7 linked regions of the Homo sapiens genome follow. The protein of the gene in region 4 purifies or fractionates together with the protein of the main gene of each other region. This does not show direct contact. Each region holds a gene or a part of one and is shown on either strand. Other genes may lie near its edges.

Region 1 (4,284 bases), on a different chromosome or scaffold from region 4:
CTGTCTCTACAAAAAATAAAATTAAAAAAAAAAGAAAGAAAAAGAAAAAAAATGAGGGGGATATATGAAGGAAAAAAGTACATAAATGCTCTTTTAAAAGAAAAAAACAGATTCCCTAACCACATTATTTTCTATCAGTAGGTAGTAGGTAGTGTTTTCTAAACTTTGAGGCTGGTGACCAACAACTTGGGTCACTTGTCCTACTGAAAGTGGTAGATCTTGTGTTCTCAGATAAATTCCTCTAAAATTCTAAAACAACCCTTTAAAGAAATAAATACAATAGGGAAGTAACCAAGTCAACAAGTGGGACAAACTCAGACTGTACGTACAGGAGTAGTTAGATGGATCAGGAAAGAGGTGCTTCACAAATGGCACCACAAAATATTAAAAATTCACAGGTTTTTTTTAAAGCACCTCTAATGTGCCTCTCCAAAAACATAAAAAGATGTCAGAAAATAAGGAAACATCATCTGCTGTGTCACAGTACAAATTACAAATCATTTAGGTTTCTAATTTTAGCATCAGATTCTTTAAATACTATTATTGATCTGCTAAGAATCAATGTTCTTGAATTCAGCCACTCTTATACAAGCCACAAGTAATGTTTTCAACAAAACCATTACAGATTCCCAAATTGTGATGTTCTCATTTTCACTTAAATGCTGGACTGTAAAAGAATAAATTACAATCTCCAGTTTAAATGGTCTTTATAATCTTTTTCTAGGAAGACTGAATAATTACTTTCCTAGAAATCTAAATTAAGAGCTTCCTGAAAACTTAATGAGTTGCGGGAAATAGAAACATGACATTTATTACTAGCCTGAACAATACCCAATTATCTCTCCTCCTCATTCTCCCTAAAGGCAAAGCCTGATTAAGAACCACCATGGTTTGGTTCTCCAGCAACTTTTATTGGCCAAAGGATGCAGAAGGATATATGGTGTCTGTGGTTTAATTAACAGGATCGTTTATAAAACAACTTTACATTTATCTTATTTTTAAAATTCTTGCTTTTGAATAAGCTGATGTGTTAGAATAGACATGCTCCTATCCCATGCAAAAAGCTGTTCAAAAATGAGCAGCTTGCAAATCTATCATAAATGAGACATTGAATAAAATATTCTTACAGTGAGGTCTAAGAAGTAGTTCAGTCTGAGAATTTGCTTCAGATACTTTTTGAAATAAAATATTCAAGGCATAAAAAAAGCAAAACTCAAAATATCTAAAACAGATACATACTGATATTTTTATCCTAGTCATTTCCCAGAGTTTTTATGTGTCTCTGTGCTCTGCTGATTAAAATAAACAACAAAAGCAGTAGGCATCTTCTAACTAAAAGTTAATTTACTAGTCTTCAACTAAAAAGTCACAGTGGAAGAACATATATAAGGTGAAGAAAGCTTTTTAACCTTTCAGATTTAAATAATACTGCATTTCAACTTTAAAGAAAGGTTCCACCATATATTTTTTGCACTGACATTTTAAAATACAAGAACAAGTCTTTGTAATACAATATATACTTCAATATACCCAATATACCTTATATGAATTAAAAACATGTCAACTGGATAACTGTAGTAAGGCATTTAAGTATTCAGCAGAAGCCATAAAGAAATTTCTTAATGAGTGGTGTCCATTTAATATTAACTGGATTTAGTAGGTTTCCTTAAAATGAACAGGAAACAAAAGATGTGAAAAACAGGCAGTGATGCCATTATACTGAATTCCAGAAAAAGCACAGTACAATGTGTTTTCTAGCAGGGAGACCAGCAAACTGGAAGTGGATGAGCGGCCCCAGCTTACATGGTCTATTGTATTTGATCAACTGCTGAGAGAAGTATTAGTAGCCCAGTAGGTTTGGGTAAAGGTACCAGAATCCTTAGTGCTAGTCTCACAGCCAAAAACAGAGCAGGTACTCCAGATATACTTCCTGAACTGACCTGGATGAAGAGGCTTTAAAATCAACAGAGCTGGACAGTATAAAGTTCACGGAAAAACTCAATTTTTCATTTTATTTTGGTATATTAGTGAATGTCTACTGATCTAGTATTTCAAGTGTGGATCACGTAAACACCATGTAGAATGTAGTAAACGGAGTTAAATAAGAAAACACACTGGCTATCAATGCCAGAGTCTTTGAATATCAGGTCATAAATATAACCAATTGTGCAATATAACCAACATGATGAGAAAAGCACACCTCACAATTGACAATTTTAGTTCATATGATTAAAAAAAATAAAATCTGAAACTGCATTTAGTGCCACATTCTATCATATCATACATCAGATTCCATGCTGTGGAGCCGCACTGGGCTACAGGACATACAGTACATATAGCATGTTTTAAACCGAAAGTGAAAGGAAAAATATGAAACAGAAAATTTTTACATACACATCTAACGGTGTTGTCCATTTAATTCGATTTATATGATTTGCTGTGCCACTTTGACTGGCTTGCAGAACACCCCAAATTCTCTTTTCCCCATAAAGATCTACTTCCATACAGAGTAGAAAAAGATGGTGGTAAAAAAAACTTCAGATTCTTCAGGTTCCAACGATTGTGTCCCAAATGCCACTGTATGAACACCTAAAAAATATTAAGAACAATTTCAAAATCTGCATAACTATAAATGCAAAAGTAAATACAGCTTAAAGCCTAAAAGAGAATTCGTGAATATCTTGTCTTTTAACACTTGCCTGTGCCTACTACATGATGTCGACTATAAATAAAACGTCCACTGTGGTAAATGGGAAAAAAGAAGAAGCTTTAAAAAGTTAAAGGGAGACATTTGTCAATTTTATAAATAGGCCTCCTGTTTTAGCAAAAGGCACATTCATTTAGACCTCAATCAATCCAGGAAGGGCTCCTCACTGACATAAGGAATCAGGATATCTCACCCTTCCCATCAACCACCACCTGCCCTTCCTTTCTTTCTGAACAAGAGCATAAGAATTTCCTATAGAGTATAAATTCTTTCAGTTAGAACATCCAACTTTAACTTATGGGTTCTTCTCCTTCTCTTTTTTTTTTTTCTGAGACAGTTCTCACTTTATCGCCCAGGCTGGAGTGCAGTGGTATGATCTTGGCTTACTGCAACCTCCGCCTCCCAGGCTCAAGCAATTCTCCTAAGTTTCATGAGTAGCTGGGACTACAGGTGCACGCCACCACGCCTGGCTAATTTTTTGTATTTTGTAGAGATGATGTTTCACCATGATGCCTAGGCTGGTCTCGAACTCCTGAACTAAAGCAACTGGCCCACCTCAGCCTCCCAAAGTGCTGGAATTAGAGCCACTGCACCCGGCTGGGATCCCCTCTTTTTCATACTGCAGCTTCCCAAAGCTTTAACAGGCCTCTGCACTTGAGCTTGCCAGGAACTCAGGGCAGGGAGGTGTCCAAACCCACCTGTGTGCTCTCCTAACAACCACACTCCTGAGCGTTCGGGGCCTGTGCGCGCCGCGGTGACCTCAGCTGTCTCAAGGCAGCATCTCCGTACTGAATACCTGAGCCCATTCTTTCTGGGTCCAGCTCACCTAAGGACCAAGCAAGTCTTCTTTTAAAAAAGGCTTTTATGTTTCTTTGATTCCAAAAATAGATTAAAAAAAAAAAAAGCAAAGTACAGAACACTGTGTATATATCCCACCATTCTGAATAAAGGGAAAAAACTATATATATGTTTGCTTGCACCGGCACAAAACATCTCTAGCAGGATACATAAGGAACGGCTGATTCGGAGGAGTTCTAGATGGCTGAGGACAGGAGGGGGTGGTAACAGGGGGACTTTTCATTGCATACTCTTTTATACTTCTTGAATTTCAAATTATGTGAATACATTATTTATATAAAATAATTTAAAATTAAATTACAAAGATATAATTTTTCACTTATTAGATGGGCCAAAAGTCCAAGTATGATGATACTACATGCTGTGGACATGGCTTTAGTGAAATAAGCCCATCACTAGGAGAAAATGTGACAGCCTCTACACCAAGATCCCAAATGCTTATGTTCTCTGACCCAGCAATTCCACTTCTGGGCATTTGTCTGACACACAGACTCATGCACATGTAAAAAAAAAAAAAAAATATATATATATATATATATATATATATATATATATATATATATATATATATAATTATTTACTGTAACATTACTTATAATAGCAAAATACTGGCAACAACCCAAATGTCCAAAGTAGACTGGCTCATGAATTATGGTAACACATAGGTTGAGCGGTCCTTATCCAAATATAGGTTGAGCAGTCCTTATCCAAAATACTTG
Region 2 (3,500 bases), on a different chromosome or scaffold from region 4:
AGACTCTTAAACCTGTGCATGTGTGGAAGGGATCTGAGTGGCAGAACTCCCATTTGGAATTCTGGACTGCTTATTTGTGTTAAATCCTGGCTGAGCATAACAATGACTTGCTAACTTCAGCTCTTCATGCTCTGCCTTAGATAGGAGTTGCGGTGCCAGGTGAAGAGTTCTTTCTCCTGGGCCACGGATTGTGTTCTTTACCTCATTTCCCAGAAAAGGAGGTATAGTTACAGCAAGAGGCAAAAGTTAACCTGGGCGGAGGCCTCAGTCAGGGAAATCTGACCAAGAGCCATCACTCATCTCTCCCTCTGCGTGCCCTATTTGTTGTCCTTTTTGAATTGTGTATTGAGATCAGTTTCAACTTCATATTTTTTTAAATCAAAAATGTAAACTTTAGGAGAGCCAGAATTGCAGCGAAATATTTGTCTGATTTAATTGGACAAAAAGTTTTCCAGTTAAACCCTAATTTCTCAATTAAGACTGGGACCCTGGGGATCTTAGCCAGAACCCACCGATTGTTCCTAAAGCCCCTAGAAGTCTCACTTCGGTCTCAGGCACTCGGTTTTCTGACTCCTGCTGTGGGGTGTGGAGTAAGAATGGGGAGGAGCAGGATCTTTGAGCGTGGTCCTCTAGGCAGGTCTTTAGAATGCCCAAAATAGATCCTGTGTTTTAAAACTCATTTGTTACAGTACTGGGTATCTCCTGATTTTAAACTGTCTTGCGCAGTAAAACAGGGGTGAGTCTCTTTATTCCTAGGATGAATCCCTGCCTCATTTCAGATTTGTTTGGCTTAGCTAATATTTGTTATGGGTTATCATTATATGTCTCTGCTCATTTTTGTTAATTACCTGTATCCAGGGTACCTAGAGAGCCCTTCCCATCCTGATCTCTCTAGGGAGAAAGTCGTCCTTGGCTGCCCAGCAGTGACCAAAGTCTTCAGGAGAAATCAAGGTCAAAGCAGACAATTTATAACTTTTGTCTTTTTTCTCTCCCTTTGTTTTCTTAATTCCAGACTTTCTGTTCCAGATCTCACTCCAAACATTGGTCTTTTCTGGTACTTCTTTGCAGAGATGTTTGAGCACTTCAGCCTCTTCTTTGTATGTGTGTTTCAGATCAACGTCTTCTTCTACACCATCCCCTTAGCCATAAAGCTAAAGTAAGTGGCTGGACCTGCTGCTGCTGTGTGTACAGAGCTGTCCGAGAAGCCCCTGCCTCTAGTAGCCTTGAGGGTGGCCTTCAAATGTGGAGCACCTGCTGTCAGGTTTAGAGCATCTCACCTAAGGAACCTGCCTTCAGTTGCCGCAGTTGCCAGCGCCATAGCAGGCAATAGAGTCGCATGGGTGCAGGCTGCAGTGAGGGTGCTTTGGAGCCCCAGCATTTTCCCTGGCCTCACTCTGAGGTGCTCAAGTCCACATTGCTGCTGAGCCCATTCACTGTTTTGGACTAGAGCCAGGCGGTGGCCAGGCATGGTGGCTCACACCTGTAATCCCAGTACTTCAGGAGGCTGAGGCAGGAGGGTCACTTGAGGCCAGGAGTTTGAGACCAGCCTGGACAACATAGCAAGATCCTGTATCTACAAAAAATTTAAAAATTAGCCAGGTGGCTGCCTGGGTGCAGTGGCTCACGCATATAATCCCAGCACTTTGGGAGGCCAAGGCGAGTGGATCACCTGAGGTCAGGAGTTGGAGATCAGCCTGACCAATATGGTGAAACCCTGTCTCTACTAAAAATACAAAAATTTGCCAGGTATAGTGGCGGGTGCCTATAGTCCCAGCTACTCTGGAAGCTCAGACAGGAGAATTGCTTGAACCCAGGAGGCAGAGGTCACAGTGAGCCAACATTGTGCCACTGCACTCCAGCCTGGGCGACAGAGCAAGACTCCATCTCAACAAAAACAACAACAACAACAACAAAAATTAGCCAGGTGTGGTGGTGTGCCCCTGTAGTCCCAGCTGCTTGGGAGGCTGAGGCAGGAGGATGACTTGAGCCCGGGAGTTTGAGGCTTCAGCGAGCTGCTTGTGCCACTGCACTTCTGCCTGGATGACAGGCGGAAGTGCATGTCTCAAAAAAAAAAAAAAAAAAAAAAAAGAACAGGAGTTGTGGAGGGGAGTGTGTTTGGAAAAAGTGTATCTGGTGGAATGTCTCCATCAACAGCCCAGTGACAGGTCCTCCACAGGGACTCTGGATGGTTTAGTTGGGAGGCTGGCCACCTGCAACTGTTTAATCTCCTGATCTGTTTCCCTCCAAAGGATGTGTGGAGTCCTCTTCTGCAGTCTAAGAGAGCTGATAGATGTTAGGCCTGCTCCATTCCAGGTGCCTTTCTAGACCCTCTGAAACATAATCATACCTAACCTAGCAACTCCTGGAGGTAGGCGTTAGATTCTTATCACTCCCATTTTATAGTTGAGGAAATCGATGCTCAGAGAGGTGGGATGATTTTCCCAGTCACACAGCTAGTAAGCAGTGGAGCTGGGATTTAGACTCAGGTTTGTCTGGCTCCAGAATCTATGCTTATCCCCCTGCACCATGCCAAGCTCCGGAGAGATTGCTTTTAGTAGCCTCCGGAAATGGTTCTATTATCCTAGCTTCAGATAAGGGAAAACAGACACAGACAGGTACAGATACGCCTAGATGGTCTGGGGAACCTGAAAGAGTTTGATTTAGGTTTCAAGAGCTCAAGTTCTCTGTCCTAACCTTCCTGCCATTCTCCATGGTCTGTGCACCAATGCACGTGGTTCCCATTCTGTAAAATCTCAAAAGCTGATGCTTCCTTCCCATGACACAGCCTTGGCCTGGCTTCTGACAGAACACCCTCCTTCCATGGCCTGGCAGGCTCCGGAACTCTGGCAGCCTTGCCCAGCTGAGCTCTCCAGCTGTCTGTGGTCCACCTTCCCTGTCCTTGTTCCGGTTAGGCCCAGCCATGGGGTGAAGAGGAGCAGGGATCCCAGGGCACCTTTCCGCACTGGCCGTGCAGCCAGCTCTCCGGCAGCTTTTATTGTCTGCATGCAAAGCCACACATTGCTCCTGGCTAGGCAATAATGTCACCATTTTATGACCTAAGCCAGGCCCACACAGTTGTGGGGACAGAAAATATGAAGAGACCTGCTCTCCCTGCTGTCTTCTCTTCTGCCTGGGTATGAAGCTCTACCTAAGCTCTCCTGCCCCCTGCAAGATTTGTTTCCAGTGCCAGCTTTGTAGGAACAGGGCCCTTCAGGCCACCCCAGTCCCTGTGCAGTGCTGCAGGAGGCTGTAGTCTGTTTTTTTGTCACCGCATTTTCACCAGCCTTTTCATAGAAATGTTGCCGTTGTTACCAGCTACCTGAAAAGCCTGAAGCCAGTGATGTGGATTGTGTTTAGGAAGATGTTCACACTGAGCTATAGCTGGACGCTTCTTAGAGGCTACAGGGCTGCACGCCTTTGCCAAGCTGCGTTTCTGAGGCACTTGCTGCACAGCAGCACTGGAGCATTCTGGGTGTGGACATGTTTGTCTGCACATCTCA
Region 3 (3,500 bases), on a different chromosome or scaffold from region 4:
AAGATTGCGCTGCTGCACTCCAGCCTGGACCACAGAGTGAGGTCTGTCTCAAAAACAAGGAAGAAAAAAAAAAGAATAAAGCTATGTGGATACATTTAAAAATTATCATGTAGGTAATTTAGAGTATGTCATTCTATGTCTTTGCTAGAAATGATACCAAAATATTATTTTTTAAAAATTAGGTTATTTTTTGAATAAGTGGTATATTCATGGCAGAGAATTTAGAAAAGGCAGATACAAGGAAATTAATTTTTAAAATAACCTATAATTTTATCACCTAGAGAAAATCTGTCAGTAGTTTAAGGTATTTCTTTCTAGATTTTTCTAGATTTTAATTATCTTTCAAAGTTGGGATCATACTGTATATAGAAATTGGAAAGGACCACTACTGTTCCCATCAACATAGCATAAATAATAATCATTGAAAGAAAATTTTAGATCTTTCTAGCAGAGTGAGTCAAGTAGCCAAGTATTTTCAATGATTTCATCTGGTTAAAGCATTGTGACATTTCCTTAACCTTTTGCTGTAAGTATTATAGTATTTAGAACTAATTATTTACAAATTAAACACAGATTCTGTGTGGAAGGAAAGTTGCTTGAGTATTGTCACCTTAATGATTGTATATTGGTCATTGTACTGGAAATTATCCAGTGCAAAATAGGATATCATCAACTATAAAAGAAAATAAGAAGTAGTCATTTAATTTGTATGGCTAGAACTAATTGTTGTTGTTGTTGCTGTTGTTTTTGAGACAGTCTCACTCTGTCCCCCAGGCTGGAGTGCAGTAGTGAAATCTCGGCTCAATGCAACCTCCACCTCCCGGGTTCAAGCGATTCTCTTGCCTCAGCCTCCTATCTGGGACTACAGGCCCGTGCTATCACGCCTGGCTGAACTAATTTTTAAAAACAATATTTTTAGTAAAGTTTCCCTTTTTCATTATAATTACTTACAGAGAAGGCAATTGTAGTTAGTACTTTATGCTTACTTGTTGCATTAAGGCTGTACTTTTCCATGAACTGGAAATAGCTACTCTTTACAAATAATATGTTTTCCTATAATCCTAGCACTTTGGGAGGCTGAGGCGGGCGGATCACTTGAGGTCAGGAGTTCAAGACCAGCCTGGCCAACATGATGAAACCCCGTCTCTACTAAAAATACAAAAATTAGCTGGGCGTGGTAGCGGGCACCTTTAATCCCAGCTACTCGGGAAGCTGAGGCAGGAGAATCGCTTGAACCCGGGAGGTGGTGGTTGCAGTGAGCCGAGATTGTGCCACCGCACACCAGCGTGGGTGACAGGGCGAGACTCCGTCTCAGGAAAAAAAGAGAAAAAATAGTAATAATAATATGTTTTTTTTTAATTAAAAATTTATAACAGTCTGGTTTGGATGAATGGTAAAGACACTCTTTGAATGAAGGTCTTTTGGATGTGTAGGCCTAACCTTCATAGGTAACGGCCTCTCCTGGTTCCCTTTTGGTGTTGGGCAGCTAGCTTTTGCACAGCATCAGGCTGAAGTCGCCAAGATGGAGCCATTAAACAATGTGTGTGCCAAAAAGATGGACTGGACTGGAAGTATCTGGGGTAAGGTGTTTGTGCACTTGTCCTTATTTTGAATAGAAATTCTGAGAATGAAAGAACATAGAACAAAGAGAATGATAAAATAACAGGAGGCTTTCCATGACTGAATCTTTAATATCAGAAGAACATGCAAGAAGCATTTTAGGTTTAAAACCAGTGACTTTTTATGCTCATCTAAAGTCACAGGGAAGGAATAGAAGTTGTATATATGTTGGCTCTGATATTATCTGTCTTCCTTCATAAGACTGTGTGAAGGATCCTATGCTCGCTTTTGTTCATCTCGTTCTTTGCACAGGGTCTGGCATATTCTCAATAGAAGTTTATTAAACAAGTGAATGAATGTATATATGAATTAATATCCATCTTAAATTTAATGGCCTTATATTGACTTGTGAAATTTTATGTTGTAGCTTTACTTTTTTTTAACTACGGGAAAAATTAGTTTTTTTATTCTTTCACATTTTATAAACATTCTCATGAATGTTCACTACCTTTGGTTGTATGTATCTAGCAATGGGGATGGTTTAATAATGTTCCAAGGCATTTTATAAATGCAAGTCCATGACTGACACGGAATTCTGCAGATGGAATCCAAAATAAATGTTTCTTAAAAAGTTGTGGGAACTAAACCAATTCAGCCTTCCTTCCTGGCTTCAGTGGACAGTGAAATGCCTCCTCTAGCTCAGGCTAGTTTCCCAACGTATATAAGCCTGATTTGGAAAAATTAGAACTAATATTCCACTTTATTTTGTAAACTCCATAAAGAACTGACTTTTTAAATTAAAAATTTACTGAGGTAATTGTGGATTCACACAGTAAGAAATACTACAGAGAGAGCCCGTGTACCCTTTCCCCATTTTCCTCCAGTGGTGACATCTTGCACAGCTTTAATAGTACAATATCAGAGCCAGGATATTGACTTTGATACAATCCACCAGTCTTATTTCGACTTCCCATTTTACCTGTACTCATTTGTGTTTGTGAAGCATTGCTTTTAAAGTGTTTACCTTTTAGACATTTTTATAAAATACAATTTTTTATCTGCATAAAACATGTATAATTTGAATGGATTTTTAAAACATGATTTTGGACATAAGATGAAAAATTTAAAAATCAGCATTACAGGGAGTCTACTTAAAACTTAAGATAATTTAAAACTCATTGGTGGGTGGTCAGGGAGGGTCAAAACCAAAGTAATGTCTTGTTTGGGAATGAAATGCAACATTAAAAGAAATGATCAGTGTTTTGTCTGTTTCTCTAAACAGAATGGTTTAGAAGTTCATGGACCTATAAGGATGACCCATGCCAAAAATACTATGAGCTCTTACTAGTCAACCCTATTTGGTTGGTCCCACCAACAAAGGTATAGCATATATTTTGTAAAAATTACTTAAAGTCAGTCAGAAATCCCTTGTATTTTAAAGAACTTTAGTGTTTGAGTCATTTTGCTAATAAGCGTTTGTCCAAGAAAAAATACTTTTGCACAGTGATTTTCACATTAAAAATGGCACAACAGCATTTTAATTTATGTAACATACTTTCAGCATCAGTACTCAATGAATTTTGATGCATTCTGTACCTTAGTCCTGTGAGGAGAAAATTAAGTTGCTTTTCTCTCGTTTTAGGCACTTGCAGTTACATTCACCACATTTGTAACGGAGCCATTGAAGCATATTGGAAAAGGAACTGGGGAATTTATTAAAGCACTCATGAAGGAAATTCCAGCGCTGCTTCATCTTCCAGTGCTGATAATTATGGCATTAGCCATCCTGGTTAGTATTAATATATTAGCACTGTCGGGCCAGGCGCGGTGGCTCACGCCTGTAATCCCAGCACTTTGGGAGGCCTAGGCGGGCGGATCACGAGGTCAGGAGATCGAGACCATCCTGGCTAACACAGTGAAACCCTGTCTCTACTAAAAAA
Region 4 (3,500 bases):
AGAATATATACTTTTTTTAAACAGGAAGGCATACTTTATGATATATAATCTTTTTACCACAAACTATATACACTTCTCAGATATTAAATCAAACTAATATACTAGGAAGACACTACTACTTGGGACCAGTGCAGCACCTTTACAAGTAGTTTAACTTTTATATGTGACTTTAGTAACACCATTATACAAATAAGCCATCTTACGGGCATTGTTTTGGCAGTGGAAACCTATAAGACACAGGTTGAATTTCACAAAAAGATCTGCAACTTGACGACTACTGCTTAGCATATCTTTGTACAAAATGTGCAGTACCAGGTGCAAGTGTAGCACAGTTGCTAATAGCTGAAAACCGGCACGAAAACTTTACTGCCCTTTGGAAACTGGACAGAACAATCTGGAACTCTCATCTCCTGTTGCTCCTCTAACGATTTAATATATTCTAAATACCTTTATGTGGAAATAAAAAATAACAGGACAAAAGCAGGCTAGGGAGATTGCATTTCTGTCAGTAAAATTTCTCAAATCAACACATTCATCGAGTTTCTGACATTGTTCTTCGAGCAGCCGTCATCTGTCTAATGCAAAATGTGGCTTTGCTTTGTCTTGTTGCAAAAGGAAAGAAAAGCTTTTGTTCAGAGCTTTAGAAAAGTCGGTTCAGTCCACATAATGCATTTTCTCCTTCAATTCTGAAAAGTAGCTAATGCTCATTTGGTAGTGAAGTGCTGCAGAGGAATGTTCTCTTGCTCCTTCTTTCACAAAATTACTTTATGGACAGGTTTCGAACATGTCACTCAACCTCAAAACATGGTGCAGGCTTCTTGGTGGATGAGCTTACATTATCTGAGGGGCGGTAGGAAAGCGTGCTCATTTTTGTTGAAAGGTTTGAGTGGGATTTGGCTTTTGGGGGAATATATTTTAGAAGCTGGAGAAAATATCTTTTAAATTTTTTCCCCAGAAAGCCATAAAAAAGAGGATTCAGGCAATTGTTAAAATAAGCTATACAAATGGTGATAGGCATGGCCGTGTCCACAATATCTGCAATTCTACAGTCACGTATGATGCCTAGTTGAATCAATACATCCAGAAAAGTGAATATTTGGTGGGGAATCCAGGAAAAGAAAAAGAAAAGCACAATTGCCATAATTATCTTAAAAATATCATCATTTCTTGGTTTGTTCTTCTGAATTTCATAAGCCTTCTTTAGGGCCTTCCAAATAAGAGTATAACTTGTAAGAATGATCAGAAAAGGAAACAGGAAACCCAGTATATTTTTGGTCAGGCCCAGCCCTATCGGGAGGGTTGAATTTTGGGACTCATAATGGAAAGCACAAACTGTAATATTGGTGTTCTCAATGAAAAATACATTTCGATGGATTATAGCTGGCAAACTGGCCAAGCCTGCCAGCAGCCAAATGATGATGCAGGTGACTTTGGCTACAAGCATTGTGCGTCGAAGGCGGGACTTCATTGGGTGAACAATAGCCAGGTATCGATCAATGCTGAGACACGTGAGTAGAAACACACTAGCGTACAGGTTGAAACTGACGCTGGCTGAAGCAATCTTACATAGGTAATTGCCAAAGGGCCAGCGGTATTCCATAGCTGTGTAGACAGCCCATAGTGGCAAAGTCAGTAAAAAGCATAAGTCAGCCAGTGCTAAATTCAAAAGAAAAACACTGGCCACAGTCTTCAGCTTCATATAAAAGTAAATGACTATCACCACCAAGCTGTTTCCAAATATTCCCACCACAAAGATGATACTGTATAAAGTAGGAATCATGACAAATATGTAATTATGCCTTCCAGCTTTGGGACAATCATCTTGGATTCTTTTAATACCATCTTCAGTAGAAGAGTTGAGAATCATTTTGATCACCTGGGTCGAATTTGTTGCAAACACTATATCAAATACACCTGGGGAAAATAAAAATAAAATGGTAAAGAAAAAATTCTTATTGTAAACAAACAAACTAACAAACATTCATTTCTCAGTCATAAACGTAGTAACTCAACTTTAGTCTTAGGAAAAAATACTGGATCATATTTCTTAAGGAAACACTGTGAACTGATAAAGCCTAAGAAAGCACACTTAAATTTTAGAACATAATTGCTTTTGTAGAAAATGGTATCATCCAGAGAAGTGAAATTGGGATTCTATGTGAATAAACCTATCTAGGTCCTTTTCCTTTTTTTCTATAAGTAAATCTTGGTTTCCAAATTGATTAAAAACATAACCTAAATCTTAGAAAATACTACTGAATTAAATTAGTTTTTCAGAAAGACTTGAAAGTTTTTCCTGAGGTAAGCAGGACCAATTCATTTATCATTAACCTCAGAAGTGTGACACATTCATATTCTTTAAACCATTTCTTTCCTCTCACAATCTTTACTTAGGTATAAAGATTATAAGTATTCTCCCTTAAGTGGTCAGGATAGCTGCCTTTAGGTGACTGACAAATTGGTCACTGTGGCAATTGATTTAAGAGGCGTAGGAGGTAGGGCTCGACTTTGAGGAATAGGATTTTTTCCATGGTTTTCCAGGCCTCTGCAGTCAGTAACTACTTACTCTTTAACTTCCAATTCAGTCTAGCAAAAGTGCATGAATCTTCTAACCTTCATACCTGCCAGCCATTTCTGAAGTTAACTCTGTGGTTAACCATTTGTGTAACAAAGATGTCAAATGAATAGGTTTGGCTAGGATTATCAAGAAAGCATGTCTTTACTGAGGGCTTGAGAAAGCAGCAGGTTTTTTAGAATTCTGGGGAGAATCAGATGCTCAAGAATGGGCTGCACAAAGCCATGCAAATATTTGCTCTGATTTTCTACATAATCAACAGTCAAGCTATTCATTTATGTGATTTAGAAAATCAACACATTCTGCCCTGGATAACAGTCCATCAGGAAGTCCCAGGAAGGAGGCTGAAGGTTCAGTGAGAGTGACATCACCGAATGTGGTACAGCCACACTCTGAGGTGAAGGTCAGCATTGGGCACAGGCCAGGACAGCTAGGTGGGCAGTGGTGCTGGGCACACAGATCCTATTGCTCTACCAGGAGCAGGTCCCCAGATGAACATGGCTGAGCATTCTCTTGCAATGGCATGCCCTGGGGAAAAAGAGGAGCAGAAATAAGACACCACTGCCATGCCAAGCATGGTTGTGCTTGGCATTCAGGAGAGCTGAACACATGTTCTTAGAGTAGTGTTCACTTTGGTGCAAAGGGATGCTGTGCAAGGGATACAACTCCAGTAGTCAGCTTTTAAGACATAACACATGTGAAGGAGTTCTTAAGTGGTCTCTTTGCCTTCCCTGAGTAAGTAAAGTTGTTCTCCCTATGTAAGTTTTTGGTTGCATGTCCTCATTATTGTTCCTTTTTGCATCCAGCTTATATAATGTACATCCTTTTCTTCTTTGACTCACCAGGACATTAGTATCCACAAACAGGTGTTATCTACCCTAAATGTCACATCTTTGGTGAAGCCTTCCCAACTTTTTTGAGCACT
Region 5 (2,351 bases), on a different chromosome or scaffold from region 4:
GATGTCCCTGCATGAAAAGCCTCACGGATGTTTTCCATACATGAAAAGCCTATTTATAATTATCCAAGCCAATAGCCCCACTCCAGGTACATATAAAAAACAAAGCAGAGTTGGGCATGGTGGCCAGTGCCTGCAGTCCCAGCTACTATGGAGGCTCAGTTGGGAGGAGTGCCTAAGCCTAGGAGTTTGAGGCCAGCCTAGGCAACAGTGAGACCCTGTCTGTCTCTTAAGGGAAAAAAAAAAAAAAAGCATTTCTGCATTGGTTTTAATATACAAAGAATTTTCCAGAAGTACTACTAGGTAAATTAAGGAATGATTACACATTATTTAATTCAGAACTTTATCAAGAATTGTTCACCGTTTTTAAAAACCATGCCAGTGGCAAAAATGATGCCCATGGTATGTGAGTCGCCAACACAATGCCCAGTATCAGCTGCCCTGTAGCTACTACAGCCTCAGGGATGCCTCACATCAGTGCAGACACCTGACTACATTGTGTCTTCTGCACCCCCCACTGCCTAAGCACTTACATGATGAACTATGTTAAACAGCTGTAAATTGCTGTATTTCATTTCTACTTTATCTCAGATCATTATGTTAATTGTATTGGAATTGGGCATGTAGGTAGGTTATCTGTGAATTTCACTTGGGGATAATAAATAGGACATTACCACTGTTTGTTATAAAAATGGCCATTGGTTCTGAGGGGCTGAGAACCACTGCTGGTCTATGGCTCTCAAGCATGTGTCAGAATCACCCACTAGCCCCATACCAAGAATGTGCATTTCTCACATTCCTAGGGGATGCTGTTGCTGCTGGACTGGGGACCCCACTTTGAAAGCCACTGCTCTGCATGTCAGGTCACTATTCCTTTTAGGTCCCTTCTCAGCACCACCCCTGCTTCTCTCCTAGACCAGGGGTGTTGCCCAGGAAGCTGACCCAGGAGCAACCCCCAGAGGGGGTTACCATCCTCTAGGACTCCTGGGTCCCAGGTGGCCCCAGGGGCAGAGGCAAGCTGGTGCTGAGCATGGCTGGGCACACAGCACGCTGCGGGTACCAGGAAGCGCCGTGGTGGCTTCATGTGGAACAGCCCACAGTAGGTGCTCGGCAAACCCTGACAGGCGGCATCTCCCAGCCTGGGGGAATTCTTGGTTCCCTGAGCCCTTCTGTGCTGGGGTGGAAAACCACAGCAGTCCTGGCTCTGGGTCACAGCCAGGAATGTGGGAAAATCTCAGTGGCCAGGACCCCGACCTCAATAAACCCCTCCGATCACCCCAGGGTGGACCAGGAAGAGCAACATTTCCAGGGAAAGGCATTTCAAAGACATTACCTCCTTGTCGATAGTTTTGTAGCCACACATGGTGTTGACAACTTCTGTCTGAAATGGAAATGTATAATAGCTAATATTTATAATGGTTCTAACTCAAAAAGGCACTATTATCCTACCCATTTTACAGATGAAAACCGAAGCACAGAGTTGCACCGTCCAGCAGGGATGGAGCTGAGATTCCGACCCAGGCAGTCTGGCTTGAGTCTCCATCATAACCACCTCCTCCTCCAAGAAATGCCCCGTGAAAAAACTGTAGGAATGCAGGTTCCATGACTTTTACCTGGGAGAACCACCCCTCCACTAGCAGCAGATCAGGACCCCAGAGAAAGGTGTGCTGCCCACGCTCCCGGGCTATGACCGCCCCAGAGCACCGCTTTGCTCACACCGTCTCAGAGGTCGGGGTGGGGCTGTTCCTGCGCCGCTGGCTCTTGGGGAGGAAAACTTCAGACTACAGCTGGCACAGGGTCAGCTGTGGTTTACCTGAGGTCCAGGGCAGGGCCCCTGGCCATGCTTCCGTTCCATAGACCACTGCTCCACCAGCGGAGAGTGCTGCCAAAACTTCCTTCTTGGGAAGAGAGGTGCTCTCCAGAACTCCCGACTACTGATTAATTTAGGCATAGGGAAACCTGTGGTCACGCCCTAGACCTCATCAAACCCCTCCCCAGGCAGGCCCTAACTCACAGGCTGCCGCGGGCACTTCCCATCACCACCTGTGCCCCGCAGGGTCTCCTTCTCCAACCACCAGGGAAGAGAGTGAGACTTCCTGGTCCAGCCCATGACCGTCCCCCCCAGCCCCGCTGCTCTACATGTAAGTGAACGCTGCCGTGAGTGCTGCAGGCGCCAGTGATGACTCAGGAGGGCAACAGCAGAGCCCCCAGCGTGCCCTCTGGTGTCACATTTCCTGGGTCCAGATCTTGCTCTGCCACTTAGGAGCAGAGCCCAACCTTAGGTGGGCTGCTAAGGAACTGGCACGCAGAGGTACTCAATACATATTTGTTAACTGAGAAAATGAATGAATGAA
Region 6 (3,500 bases), on a different chromosome or scaffold from region 4:
GAGTGTTACTGGTTTCACTGGACAGGGAGGAAACTGACGCTTAGAAGGAATCTGTCCAGGACCCCCAGACCTGGGAAAGTGCCCAAGTCTCTGGACAGCCAATGTGGGCTCCCTGGCCCACGCCTCTTCTGCACTGCCTGGCGTGAAGTTCATCTGCAGCTTAGGTGAGGAGTGGCCGGGAGGGGACCCTGGTCCCCACAAAGACACGATGTGCCCCACACTCTGCACCAGCTCACTGTGAGGCAGCACTCGGGGGCAGCCCTGGGTACCCTGTGAAGGGAGCTGCTGGGGGCTGGGGGAGGCTACTCACGTCTGGAACGAAGGGAGGGTCCAACATCCCGGCTTCTAAGCGCTTGAAGTTCATGTTCCTGAAGAAGGGGTGTCTCTTGACCTCTGCAGCCCCCTCCTCCTGGCAGCCCAGCCTCTGCTTCGCATCTTTCGTGAGCAGCTGAAACAGAGAGCCCCATGAAGCCACGTCCCCTGGGCCTCTCCTCCTGTCCGGACCTCCTGCCTCCACAGTGTCTGCACCATGCCTAGGAACCCAAGACACGCTGCCCCACCCTGCAAAGGTCTTGCTTCAGGGCTGCCTCTGAGTCTTGGCGTGCATCTGTGCTCACACACTCACAGCCTGGCTAGATGCCTGATGGGACAGGAGAGCAGGAATCTTGTTTCTCTCAGGATTACAGACCTCGTTCCTGGGTTATGGTGGGCACTCATTAATGGGTGTCGAGTCACTGTCACCTCTTCTGTGTAGGGTAAGCAACAAAAGGCAAGGACTGCATCAATAGCTCTGTCTCGTGCACATACTCAGCTAATTTGCAGAGTTGTACCTCCTGGGTGCAAGCCCCTTCCTGACAGAGAAGGCACCACCGAGGCACTTGGCCTCTAGGAGTGCTCAGACTCATGGGGGGCTAATCATGCTCAGAGGACGCATCAAGGTGATACAGATCGGGCACCCCGGGGGCAGGGGGCATGACTGGCTGCCAGCTGGAGGTCAGGGAGCTGCACGGGGAAGAGGTATTTAAGTTGAGTCTTGCAGGACAAATAGGCTTTCAAGGTGTGGGTAGGGGGAGGGGTATACAGGTAGAGGGAACTGCACCAGCAAAGCAGAGTGGCAGGACGTGCAGGGTGAGTCTGGGGAACACCCAAAACACGTTTGACTTAGAAAGCGGGAGGAGGGTGCAGAGATGGGTCAAGGGGAGGGGGCTGGTCAGGGAGAGATGATAGAGGATCCTGAAGGCCAGGTCAGGTGGCGGGATTTTCATCTGGAGGTAGAAGGAGCCAGGGATGGTTGAGGTAGGAGAGTGTCTTCATCAGAACCACGAGGCAGGAAGGTTACTAGGAGAGGAAGAGTCTTTGGGAGCAGACACCCAGGTGAGACGGGATGAGGCTATGAATGAGGCCAGAGGGCTAGACCTGCGCAGGGGGCCTTGACTAGCCATGGCCAGCCACACGACCACAGGGCCCCGGCCCCTGACCTGCACTCCCAGTGCCCCAGCCTCGTGATTCTCTCTTCTCCTCTGCCTTACTGAGCGCTGCAGCTGTACGCAGTTGGTGTCTACTAAGTGTCTGCTTTGAGGCTAAAATCCAGAGGAGCAGACTGCTTGGGGTAGGGGCCCAGCCTTGTCTTTTCCCAATGCCCTGTGCGCTTTGCTCATATTCATCCCATGTACACTTCCTGCTGGTCCTTGTGGGGCAGGCACTGCACCGGCTGGGGACGCCGGGGAGAGTGAGCAGCCAGACTGGCCTCTTGGGGCTCAGGGTCTGGAGGGGGCTGCCCCCCAAACAAAGGAATCGAAGGTGGCATCAGGGCCAGCACCAGGTTCCACCCTTGAAAGGACAAAGCAGAGCACTCAGTCGCTCAGTGTTGCCCCTTAACGCCCCCACGGACCACCAGGCTGGCGGCTCAGGGTCTGGCACTCATGCCTCTGCTTCTCTCTCTGGGGGCTTCACTGTTCAACAAAGGCTCAAGGCACTGGGTTGGGCTGGGCCCAGGTGCTGCACTGTTCTAAGCAGTCCCTCAGAGGCAAGTCTCCTTCTGCAGGGGCTGCAGCAGCTGGCCAGGAAGGTGGCACAAACGAGGATGAGAAAGGCGAGGGGTGGGCTGGGTGGGCCGGGCCGGGCTATGTGTCAGCTCCTGCCAGGTGGGACGGCAGCCAGGGCCTGGGGCTTCTGCTTTTCAAGAGAAGCCAGAAAATCCAGGTTATTACATGAAATCTCCTCATTTCTAAATCTTGGCAATGAACCTACCATTTACTTCTTTTGAAAAACCGTGTGCAGGTTGAACACCCGCCTATATGCTGCCATTTGAAACCCTGGCATCCAGTCAACAGTTTGCAGCCACATCGTCAGGTAAAGAGTTTGCAATCATGCTATCAGGTGGACACCAGGAGAAGTGAGAGGAAGAGAAGGTGTGAGCTGGGATGGGTGGGGCAGGCAGAGCGGGCTTCCTGGAGGAGGGGTACAGATGGGCTGGAAGGACAAGTGAGACCAAGACGGCTGAAAGGCAAGAGGGAGCTGGAGGGGGGCTAAGGCCCAGTGCTGGGACTGAGCAGGGGTTTGGGGAAGATGGAGGCTGAGGTCTGGGCCCATGGACTGGGCTCAGGAGACAAAGTGGTGAGATGTGTGAATTTCTGGGCTCCAGAGGAGGGGGAGTGGGTTCTGCGGCTGCTAAGGTAGAATGGGGGACAGACCTGGGGGCCAGAGACTGGCTTCCTCACTGATTGTGGAGGGACCCTCTTAGGCAGGCAGGGCTGGAGCCACCAGAGCCTAGAAATAGCCCTGTGAACCCAGGACCTGCGAGGTCTCCTGGCAAGTCAGGCTCTGCAGTGTCCTGAGCTGCCACCAGCTGGAGGGGACAAGGTAGGCCTAGATGCCGGAGATGCTGCAGTCAAGGGCGTGAAGGAGGCCTAAGACTAGACTCCCAAGACCAAAGATCATTTGTAAGGGAAGCCGCAGCAAGGCCAGAGGCTTCCAGAGGACAGTGGTTTTGTACCCACGGGACAGGTCCTCCGGGAGCAGCAGGCTTTCTCTCAGTGTCCACCAGGGGGCAGCAGAGGGACAGCAGCACCCTGGTCCAGGCTGCAGCAGGAGATCCCAGCTCCAAAGCCAGGGGCCAAGGTGGGTGTCTGGGGTCTGGGGGTGGGACTGGGGCCCTCTCCGCCTCGTCATCCTCTTAGTACGTCCCATATCCCTGCTGAGATCTCTCAAGACCTGCTTCTCTGATTGCCTGGCCCTGACCTGGGACATTTGGTGATGCTCTGCCCACGGCTGTCTGACCCCTTCTTCTTTCCCTTGTCTCGTTTTGTCGCACCTGACAGATATCTCCCAATGAGACAGCCAAGTATGGCTCACACCCACATTTCCATTTACCCGACCAGTGCTGCACTGCTCCTCCGGTCCCCCCACCCTAGCCCTGGCTGCGATGACCATGTGGCTTTCTCTGAGGCCCCAGCTGCATGGCGGGCCAACAGCTGTGGGGTTAGAGTGTGGGTCTGCTG
Region 7 (3,500 bases), on a different chromosome or scaffold from region 4:
AGACACCAACCCACCCCTTGCCTTTCCACCTCCCTAGCCTGGAGATGGGAGAAGGGGAAAAGAAGCCAAGAAGCAAGGACCATCCAACGTAGACCTTTGCATTCACCAGACAGCACATCCCACATACTAACTACTGTGTGTCAGTGGGACACTGCGAATAATGCTTGTTGGGAAGTCAGGAGAGCGATGTTCTGGCTCTTGGGTGCTAAGTAATGTGTGACATGGAAGATCCCAAGATCCTAAACTTTGTATCTTAGTTCCCCAATGAAAAAAAAAGATAATTATCAATTTCCAACTTAATTCATAGTGCAATTATGAGGAACAACTGAGGTAATAGATTTGGAAATATTTTGCAAAGTGCATAGCATCTAATTCACGTAAAAAGATTGTTATCATGAATCTCTCTTAGCTAGAGAAGAAAGGTATTCTTGTGCTGTTTAAAACAGTAGCCAATAGTCACATGGCTGTTGAACATTTGAAGTGCGGCTAGTCAGAACTGAGATACGTTGTAAGTGTAAAATACAACTCAATTTCAAAGAATGTGTAATTTATTACATTAATTATATGTTAAAATGATAATATCTTGAATGTATCATTATATGAAATATGTCAAAATTAATTTTGCCCATTTTTTAACTTTTTAAGATGTGGCTACTAGAAAATGTAAAATCACATACATGATTTACATTTATGGCTCACATTCTATTTCTATTGAGCAGAGCTGGTCTAGACAGTCACTTTCAGGAAGGTCAGAATGACCAAGTCCCTCTATCTTAGGCAACCCAAAGCAGCCTACTAGTTTCAGAAAAGAAGGACCCTGGGATACAGGTCTTTCATGAACCCTGCTGTTTTGTGTCCCTTGACCTCCCCTTCTAAAGGCTGTATATTTTGTTAGAGAAGGCTTTCTTTCTTATGAATTTGGGAACGGAAAAGATCGGACTTTCAGAAATAGGTGCACATGAGTTGGGGGAAGGGGAATGGAGAACATTGGATTGCTACAACAATGACTTACTGTTGAAGAATAGCAAACTAATTATCACATTACAATTCTCTCAGCCTACCAGGGTGGGTAATTAGCTTCCTTCGGGGGCTCCTTAAAAAAAAAGAAAGAAAGAGAAAGATTCCTTCCCAGCAACTAGCTATTTTGTCCTTTTAATTCAATTCAATTCAACTGGGGACAAAGTTACATAAAGGGAAAATTAACACATTAATGGCTGAAATGGAAACAGAGAGAGACATGTCTTTCTTTAGTTCTGAAGCCAGGCTTACCTTCGCTCATCAAAATGGCAAGTCCGGGGTTAATCAAAGTGTGGCACTGCATAAGCTTTTTTCAAATATCCCATAGGAGCCTCCTGGGCTCAGATTTTATCTTTTTTACCACAGTTCCATGGCCTGATTTAAAGACAGACATAGCTAATATGACTTGGATTCTAAGAGTCCATCAGTTCTGCCCGGTGAAAATGAGCTCCTTACAGAAATATTATATAGACAACAAAATCCTTACTTAACTTGAGTTTAGGGCTTAGCAACAGACATTCCATTTGGGGCAAACTCAATATTGGCAGAAGTGAGGATTGAACTTGAAGGAAATAAAGTAGAAGGATTTGATTTATTCATGGGGCAGAACAGGAAAGGGACAACTTAAGGTCTAAAGACTAAGGAATAAAGAATCAAATTATAGCACAAATTACAGACCAAATAGCATCAATTTACTAAACCTCAAGTCAGAATGAACCTAGCTATTAACTGAACCATGAATTTGACCATATAGATATAGATATAGATATCTAGCAAACTTGTTCAAACCAGAATCAAACCTGTATATTTTCCAATGAAGTAGAACATCAAAACATTCCTTAAACTGAACCTGAACCCAGCCAATGTTTCATTTGGTTAGAATTCCTGCTAAAGAGGAGCACTTTTGGTCTTTCTTTTGTCTTCAAAGGAAGACAATCTTCCATTGGTCTATCTTCCATAGACTTGGATTCTAAGAGTCTTTTGTTACTCAGGTTGAAAGAAGTTTTATAAATCTGTTCACAAGTTCCACATCCAAGACTGACTAACACAGGATGGAAACAGGGTGGTACTACCATGTCCTAGAAATGAACAAAGCCTGTTTGCCCCACCTAACCTATTATCATTTGGTTAAGTGTATTTTAACCTCTACATGTCCCTGGCTAACAGCTAAAAAAAATTGACATTTTATGAAACAATTGTTACTTTTTAAATCTCAAATGTCTGTAAGGAGAAATTTATGCCATATGAAAAGTATGCACTGTCTATAGCTTATCATTCTGGTTATCCGCTTTTGTTTCTGTGGGAGCTATTTTACAACTCTGTAAATTGTAAATAACTGATAACAATGGAAAATTATCCTTATCTATAGAGATTCAAATTCTGAATTATCTAACGATGATATCGAATCTCAGAAAAGGCAAAAATCTTGCACAAATCACAAAGCTAGGAAGTGGCGTAGCTGGGACTTCTTAGAGAGTCATCTCCCTCTCCTCTTTCATATCTTACCAATCTCCTCGTCCCAGCTTGGAATGGTCCTGAGTGAGGTGGAAGTGGAGAGGGAAAATGGGTATAGCAAATCCAAACTTTAGCTAAGGTACTGTTTTGCCTGAGATCAGCTTTGCCCTTATGGAATGTTCACTGAATGGATGCCTTGGACTAGGCTTTAAACAAACTCCGATGAAATGGGCTTGGTTATGTTACAGCCCTTCAGGGTTGGAATCATGAGGAGGCTATAGACACATTATCTGAGATGAGCCCAAACATTCTGGCAATTGCCATAAAGATTGTCTAGACTAGGGTTTGACTTCATTTATGTTCATGAACATCAGAATATAAATGAATATTCCAATTCTTTAAACTGAGAACACCATGTTAGATTGGTGGTAGGAAACAGAGGTTATTTGTAATTCTGCTATCTGCCAAGCAAATTCCCCTCATACACCCAAATTGGTTACTCTGTTTATCGTGTGGGTTGGAATAAATCCTCATTTCTTTTTTTCTTTTTTTTTAGTGAAGGAGTTATGAAAAAGCAAGAGCAGATCTTGCCTGCCAAAGCCTGGGTTGGGATCTCTTATATTGTAACTCCCTTCAATTTGACAAATATTCATTGAGTTCTAATATATTCACGTTATATCTCTGATATTTTAGAGTCACTGAGGTGCATATTTTGTAGAAGGGAAATTCTGTAGGTGGCATTCTGGAGATCAATGATTTGACATAGATTTAAACTGTGTAGTTATAGGTAGTTGTGTTCATGTGTGCTGGGTAACCAATTGGATGCAGTCTGCAAAGAGGATCTATTTACTTCAAGCTGATACCACCTGAGAATTTCTAACTGATGGGTTATATGGTGGTTTAAAAACAGATCTACAAATTCTTCAACACTCTTTCCTTTAATAAATAGAGTCTGGTTCCTCTCTCTTTGAATGTAGGTTGGACTTAGTGACTGCTTCCAATGAATATAATAAAGGAGAAGTGACAGT

The links.
Region 1: the proteins of AGTR1 (region 4) and RAB4A purify together in Homo sapiens (affinity purification with western blotting, with the first as the bait; one study listed by BioGRID). This does not show direct contact.
Region 2: the proteins of AGTR1 (region 4) and PIGU purify together in Homo sapiens (affinity purification with mass spectrometry, with the first as the bait; one large-scale study listed by BioGRID). This does not show direct contact.
Region 3: the proteins of AGTR1 (region 4) and CLCC1 purify together in Homo sapiens (affinity purification with mass spectrometry, with the first as the bait; one large-scale study listed by BioGRID). This does not show direct contact.
Region 5: the proteins of AGTR1 (region 4) and TSPAN15 purify together in Homo sapiens (affinity purification with mass spectrometry; 2 studies listed by BioGRID and IntAct, with this or other methods). This does not show direct contact.
Region 6: the proteins of AGTR1 (region 4) and GRK5 purify together in Homo sapiens (affinity purification with western blotting, with the first as the bait; one study listed by BioGRID). This does not show direct contact.
Region 7: the proteins of AGTR1 (region 4) and DCX purify together in Homo sapiens (affinity purification with mass spectrometry; 2 studies listed by BioGRID and IntAct, with this or other methods). This does not show direct contact.

What each region holds. Positions count from the first base shown.
Region 1 is NC_000001.11:229,302,111-229,306,394, reverse strand, and holds the end of RAB4A (ras-related protein Rab-4A), read right to left. Parts: intron 3,534-4,284; coding exon 3,418-3,533; 3' UTR 3,406-3,417; intron 2,590-3,405; 3' UTR 501-2,589; downstream 1-500. UniProt on the Homo sapiens protein: The small GTPases Rab are key regulators of intracellular membrane trafficking, from the formation of transport vesicles to their fusion with membranes.
Region 2 is NC_000020.11:34,583,093-34,586,592, reverse strand, and holds part of PIGU (GPI-anchor transamidase component PIGU), read left to right. Parts: intron 1-1,012; coding exon 1,013-1,156; intron 1,157-3,500. UniProt on the Homo sapiens protein: Component of the glycosylphosphatidylinositol-anchor (GPI-anchor) transamidase (GPI-T) complex that catalyzes the formation of the linkage between a proprotein and a GPI-anchor and participates in GPI anchored protein biosynthesis.
Region 3 is NC_000001.11:108,939,485-108,942,984, reverse strand, and holds part of CLCC1 (chloride channel CLIC-like protein 1 isoform 1 precursor), read left to right. Parts: intron 1-1,486; coding exon 1,487-1,580; intron 1,581-2,842; coding exon 2,843-2,940; intron 2,941-3,202; coding exon 3,203-3,349; intron 3,350-3,500. UniProt on the Homo sapiens protein: Anion-selective channel with Ca(2+)-dependent and voltage-independent gating. Permeable to small monovalent anions with selectivity for bromide > chloride > nitrate > fluoride.
Region 4 is NC_000003.12:148,739,403-148,742,902, reverse strand, and holds part of AGTR1 (type-1 angiotensin II receptor), read right to left. Parts: intron 3,104-3,500; exon of another isoform or gene 2,947-3,103; intron 1,915-2,946; 5' UTR 1,868-1,914; coding exon 788-1,867; 3' UTR 1-787. UniProt on the Homo sapiens protein: Receptor for angiotensin II, a vasoconstricting peptide, which acts as a key regulator of blood pressure and sodium retention by the kidney.
Region 5 is NC_000010.11:69,503,465-69,505,815, reverse strand, and holds part of TSPAN15 (tetraspanin-15), read right to left. Parts: intron 1,379-2,351; coding exon 1,331-1,378; intron 1-1,330. UniProt on the Homo sapiens protein: Part of TspanC8 subgroup, composed of 6 members that interact with the transmembrane metalloprotease ADAM10.
Region 6 is NC_000010.11:119,445,071-119,448,570, reverse strand, and holds part of GRK5 (G protein-coupled receptor kinase 5), read right to left. Parts: intron 449-3,500; coding exon 311-448; intron 1-310. UniProt on the Homo sapiens protein: Serine/threonine kinase that phosphorylates preferentially the activated forms of a variety of G-protein-coupled receptors (GPCRs).
Region 7 is NC_000023.11:111,325,193-111,328,692, forward strand, and holds part of DCX (neuronal migration protein doublecortin), read right to left. Parts: intron 1-3,500. UniProt on the Homo sapiens protein: Microtubule-associated protein required for initial steps of neuronal dispersion and cortex lamination during cerebral cortex development. May act by competing with the putative neuronal protein kinase DCLK1 in binding to a target protein.